Linked DNA regions of Homo sapiens. The protein of the gene in region 1 purifies or fractionates together with the protein of each later gene. This does not show direct contact. Each region holds a gene or a part of one and is shown in the gene's direction. Other genes may lie near its edges.

Region 1 (2,683 bases):
AGCCACTCCAAATGAATATACGATCAAAGGAAAAACACTATGGTAGCTACAGAAGCCAGGCTGCAAGGGAAATCCTCCAGGCCTCCCTTTCAATCAAATTGTCACCCCTATCCAAGAACTGCCCCTGGCAAATGGTCATAATTATGGACACATTGAAAAAGACTCTCCTGGGAAATCTAGGATTTGTGACTTCAAAAGGTAGTCCACACCATAAATCCAGGACCTCTCATGTTCTATTTTTAAAACACATACCATGATAAAGTTATATTCCACGTTTTTCAAATTTAAAACTAGATAGGTAAGAATGTGTTTGTGTGTGTGTAAAGTGATAAAAGTGTGTGTGTGTGTGTGTAAAATGATAAAAGTGAGACACTAACTTCCATGGCCCAGAATCTTCAAATGAATTATGAAGAATTAAATACTCAATGGAACCTAAAGTCCCTCAGTGAATCTCAGCCGTTGGCCATGCATATTGGAGCTCACTGCCAGAAGAGTGTGAAGCTCTGAGAGGCTTAATGTACATTATTAAGCTGCCCTGGTATCTGTATACCTGATGGTAGTGCTATTGGCATTTGTTTAATAACCAATATCAGTCTTCCTGTCATCCTGTCATCATCCCACGAGTGTGACATGAAGGAAAACAAAAACTTTAGAATCTTACTGTGGAAACACAAACTTCCACTATGAACTTGAAAACTTGCTGGTCTAAGACATGACAGATCCCTTCAATCCTGGATGTAAGAGGTAGATCTGTACTAATTTTCTTATTTCTGAGTTTCTTGAAGTAGTACCATAAATACAGGCAAAATACAGGACATTCAAGTTACAGAAACACTTTTTTACTGATTTTTTTCACCTACTTTTTTCCAGATTAAATGTACCTAAAGATAGTTTGATTCCACTGACAAAAAGGGACCAAATGAAACTTGACAGTATCCTGAGGAGACCTTATGTTACCTGCCAACCATTTTGGAGAAAAGAAGTATGTTTCCTTTTACAACTCAAGTGTTGCATGTTTAATTGTCTTTTACTTTAGTAGTGGCTATTCACATCGTATTTTGAAAATATCCCTCTTGAAATTTTATATGACACGACTAACATAAGTGTTGTTTGGCAGTAAATAGTTGTTGAAATTGAGTCATATGAATGCTAATAGATGAGATCAGTGAATGGAGCTGGCCTGTTTGTATCCTTATCATGGTTATATACACATTCTTGATGGCTGTATCATAGTTTGTGGGATTAAAAAAAGGAAGAAGAAATCATAAAGATTTCAGACTATCCCTAATTATTGAAGACAGCATACAGAGTACTCTCACTCCAGATATTTTTAGCTGTAGCAGCTCTGGAATATTCTGGCTGACCCTTAAGACTATTGTCCCTGGTTTTGGAGAATAAAGCAATTCTAGATTACTAGTTTGTTGAATTGACAGAAATGCAACTAAGAACTCTGGTATGAGTACATTTTACTTTTATTGACAGATGGAAATAATGGCAGACTCTAAAATGAAGGCAGAAATTCAAGCTTTGACTTTCCTATCATCAGATTATCTTTCCAGAGTGTACTTACCTAACAAATTAAAATTTGGAGGATGGATATAAAAATAAATCAGAAGAACTTCTGATTGCCAGAGGCTTTTCATTAGTTTTGTTTTGATTGGCAAATACTATTGTGGAAAGAACATATATTATATTCTTAATTCTGTAAAAGTGAAATAAAATAACTTTCCGTTAATTATATATTTTTGTCAAAACAAATGCTGTACTCCAATTTTCTTTGCAAGGCCTTATTCTTGCCTCTATAGAGACAGATTTCTGTCCTATCTTCTAAAGCAAATTATAAAAGAATATGTTATTTTGACCTTTAAATTATTTTTGAAAAAATAATATTTTATACATGTCATCAAAGTCTACAAAATATTTACCTTCTACGATACAACTAATGTTAACGCATAAAGTATCTTACTGGTAACAAAAATCATAATGATCTGAATTTGAGATGTTGCAAATGAATTGTGGTGTCCGGTAGTTTCTTCTTACATTTTCCTTTGCCTTTATACTTTAGGGGTCTTACTCCATTAATTCATTTGTTACATTAGTAAAATTCAGTATGAATAAATATTTGGATTGATGTAGTCTTCAGTGTTTTGCTTTATTTTGTATTGAGCCTATTTTTTATTGATAATATTATTTATTTGAAAAGTTTCTCGAAGGTCTTGAATGCTTCTCTAGTCTGTCTATAGAACAAAAAACTTCTTCAGTTTTAAGATCTACAGAAGCCTCAGATTTTAATAAGGTACTTCTCCAACAGTAAATATGTGACCTTTTCCCTCCATAAACCTATCTTAATTTTGCCAGAGGTCAGTTTTATGATTTTATTCTGTACTTTCAGTAAACCTTTAACTGCACTGAAAGTTTCTTGTGCTTGCAAGCAAGAATAAGAATTTATAGAAGCACGGTAATATTAGGTTAGCTATTTTATAAAGAGAAATGGTAACAATAATAATAATATATACCATTTCTGAGAACTTACATGTGCCAATCACTGCTGATTCAGTATCTCATTTAATTCCCCCAAGGACCTTGTAATTACTGGGTAACTACACCATAGTTTTCAGGTGAGAACACTGAGGATGCTATTTGTCCAAAGCCACAATAATACCAGGGGACAATAATACTACCT
Region 2 (3,837 bases), on another chromosome or scaffold:
CAAGCGATCCTCCTGCCTCAGCCTCCCAAGTAGCTGGGATTACAGGCGCCTGCCACCATGCCCAGCTAATTTTTGTATTTTTAGTAGAGACAGGGTTTCACCATATTGGCCAGCCTGGTCTCAAACTCCTGACCTTGTGATCCGCTGGTCTCGGCCTCCCAAAATGCTGGGATTACAGGTGTGAGCCACCATGACTGGCCCGATTATTATAACTTTTACCTGAGATTGAAAAAGTTTTAGGAATTTCTTTTTGTGGCCGGGCATGGTGGCACATGCCTGTAATCCCAGCACTTTGGGAAGAGGAGATGAGTGGATCACTTGAAGCCAGGAGATCAAGACCAGCCTGGCCAACATGGTGAAACCCCGTGTCTACTGAAAATACAAAAATTAGCTGGGTGTGGTGGCTCACACTTCTGGTCTCAGCTACTTGGGAGGCTGGGGCACAAGACTCTCTTAAGCCAGGGAAGCAGAGGTTGCAGTGAGCCATGATGGCGCCACTGTACTCCAGCCTGGGTGACAAAGCAAGATCTTGTCTCAAAAAAAAAAAAAAAAAAAAAATTATTTTTGTGAAGTCATTCACATTACCAATGTTTAATAGAGTTCTGGTTTTTTTTACAGAAAAATTTTGAAAGACTTATCTTCTGAAGATACACGGGGCAGAAAAGGAGACGGAGAAAATTCTGGAGTTTCTGCTGCTGTCACTTCTATGTCTGTTCCAACTCCCATCTATCAGACTAGCAGCGGACAGTACAGTATGTATAGGAATCAGTTTCCACATTATAAACACACAAAACCTGACTTTTCTGTAGAAAGAAATGGTGTTAGGAAAACTGTAATACTTTGATAGTGATGATTATTAAAGGATGTTTTCAGCCAGGAATAATGCGAAGTACTGTTTCAGCATTATTTACTCCTTATAACAACTTTGTGACATAGGCAATTATCAATGTATGAGGGAACTGAGACCTACAACATTAGATACTGTTTTGTTTTGTTTTGTTTTGTTTTGTTTTGAGACAGAGTCTCGCTCTTGTTGCCCAGGCCGGAGTGCAGTGGCACAATCTTGGCTCACTGCAACCTCTGCCTTCCCGATTCAAGTGATTCTCCTGCCTCAGCCTCCGGAGTAGCTGGGATTACAGGCGTGTGCCACCACGCCCGGCTAATTTTTGTATTTTTAGTAGAGAGGAGGTTTCACCATATTGGCCAGGCTGGTCTCGAACTTTGACCTCAGGTGATCCGTCCACCTTGGCCTCCCAAAGTGCTGGGATTATAGACATGAGCCACTGCGCCTGGCCTTATTTTGTTCATTCTTATATCTATGTAGTTCCGTACATAATTGCTGTATATTATATTAGTATAATTCCTTTCAGAACATTCCTGGCTTTTTTTTTTTTTTTTGAGGTGGAGTTTCGCTCTGTTGCCCAGATTAGAGTGCAGTGCCATGATCTCGGCTCACTGCAACTTCCACCTCCCGGGTTCAAGTGATTCTCCTGCCTCAGCCTCCCAAGTAGCTGGGATTACAGGCGTGTACCACTTCGCTTGGCTAATTTTTGCATTTTTAGTAGAGACGGGGTTTCACCATGTTGGCCAGGCTGGTCTCAAACTCCTCCTGACCTGAAGTGATTCACCCACCTTGGCCTCCCAAAGTGCTGGGATTACAGGCGTGAGCCACCACGCCTGGCCCCTGCCTATTCGTTAAAAATATTTATTGTTTGATTTATATACAGTAAAATTCACTCTTTGGGGAGTTTAAGTCTATGAGTTTTGACAAATGTGTAGAATAGTATAACACCGCCAATCAAGATTGAGTTCTGTCACCCTAACGAATTTACTTGTGCTGCCCATTTGTTATCTCCCCCTCCACTCCTAACATTAATCTGTTTCATTCAGTCTTGCCACAAAATATATGTCCCATCTGACCACCTCTTGCCGTCTCCAACCACCACCGCCTTGGTTTAGGCTCTCATCTTAATTACTGAAGTAGGCATCCAGTTGGTCATCTTGCTTCCATTCTTGCTCTAATAATCAGTTTTCCATACTGTGGCCAAAGTGATTTATTTAAGATGTCAACTAGATCACATCGCTCCTGCCCAAAATCCTCTAGTGACATTTTATCACACTTAGAATAAAATCCGGATCTTACAAGGCATTACATTTAGGATCTGCCTACCACTCTGACCTCATCTCCTGCCACTTGGTGGCATTCTGACCACCCCAGACTTCCTTACTGTACCTCAGACACACGAGCTTGTTTCTGCCTCAGGATCTCTGGAGTTGTCATTGCTCATGCCTGGCATGTTCTTCCCCCAGATCCTTATGTGGCTACTCTGCTTAAGTGTCACCTCCACAAAGAGACCACTCTCTTCAAATATGTGGCTCCTCCCTTTAGTTTCCCTTAACCTCCTATATTTTTCTTTATAGCATTTACATATAACTAAGTCAGTACATATTAGTTTAATTATAGATTGTATGTATGTAATTATAGATTAGCTTATTCATGATCTGTTTTCCCCACTAGAATATAAGATCCTTAAGGGAAAGAACCTTTTGTTTCATTCACAACTACATCCTTGACATATAGGACCTGGCATATAGTAGGCTTTCAGTTGTTTGTTATGAATTAATTAAATAATATATATATAGAATACCTCTTGAGAAACTGGGGGCCAGGCACTGTAGTTCATGTCCGTAATCTCAGTACGTTGAGAGGCTGAGGCTGGAGGATTGCTTGAAGCCACATTCAGGACCAGCCTTGGCAACATAGCAAGACTGTGTCTTCACAGAAAAATGAAGAAAAAAAAAAAAAAAAAAAGCCGGGCATCATGGCATGTGACTAGTCCCATCTACTCGGGAGGCTGAAATGGGATCTCTTGAGTCTGGGAGTTCGAAGTTACCGTGAACCGTGATCGTACCACCGCACTCCAGCCTGGGCAATAGAGCAAGACCAGTCTCAGAAAAAGAAGAAAGAAAGAAAGAAACTGGGAGCAGTGGTTGCAAGGAAAGAAGCTTGGGAGCAGAGATCAGAGGTAGTGGGGAGGTTCACATGTTATCACTGAAATAAGTGTAGTACAAACTAGTATTTAGGGCAACATAGGCCAATAGAACTTCGTATGATAATGGGAATGTTTATATCTGCATTGTCCCAGAATAGTAGCCACTAAACCATGTGTGACTGTTGAGTGCTTGAAATATGGCTGGTGGGACTGAGAAACTGAAATTTTAATTTTGTTTAATTTTAGTTAATTTAAATAGCCACATGGAGCTAATACCCTATCAGACAGCTCAGTTTTAGAATAAATACAGCACATTAACAGGTAAATACACATGTTAAGAACAGGAAGATATGTTGCAAAAATGAAAATATGTATTCACACATATTTAATATCAAAACATTTGCATCTACAGGTATGTATTTTGATATATTAGGTTGGTGTAAAAGAAATTGCAGTTTTCACCACTGAACATAATGGCAAAAGTATATAAGTCTGTATAAGCACAGGAAAATAATGGGAAGGATGTGCACCAAAAACAATAATTATCTCAGGATGGCGGTAAAAGGGGGAAAATGAAATAGAGATAGATAATGGGACCTTTAATTTTATTTATGTTGATACTTATATAAATAAATGTGTATGTGTATATATGTATATAATAATGTGTTGCAGGGAAGAAGATTGAAACTAATTGCTAATATAACTTCACAGCAAATCTCAGCCTGGCGTGTTGGATCACGCCTGTAATCCCTGCACTTTGGGAGGCCAAAGTGGGAGGATCACTTGATTTCAAGACCAGACTGGGCAATATAGGGAGACCCTATCTCTATAAAAAATTTAAAAA

What was found.
Region 2: the proteins of SPO11 (region 1) and ATF1 purify together in Homo sapiens (co-immunoprecipitation; one large-scale study listed by IntAct). This does not show direct contact.

Annotation. Positions count from the first base shown.
Region 1 is NC_000020.11:57,341,859-57,344,541, forward strand, and holds the end of SPO11 (meiotic recombination protein SPO11), read left to right. Parts: intron 1-870; coding exon 871-982; exon of another isoform or gene 983-1,482; coding exon 1,483-1,602; 3' UTR 1,603-2,135; downstream 2,136-2,683. UniProt on the Homo sapiens protein: Component of a topoisomerase 6 complex specifically required for meiotic recombination. Together with TOP6BL, mediates DNA cleavage that forms the double-strand breaks (DSB) that initiate meiotic recombination.
Region 2 is NC_000012.12:50,808,838-50,812,674, forward strand, and holds part of ATF1 (cyclic AMP-dependent transcription factor ATF-1), read left to right. Parts: intron 1-618; coding exon 619-752; intron 753-2,783; exon of another isoform or gene 2,784-3,026; intron 3,027-3,837.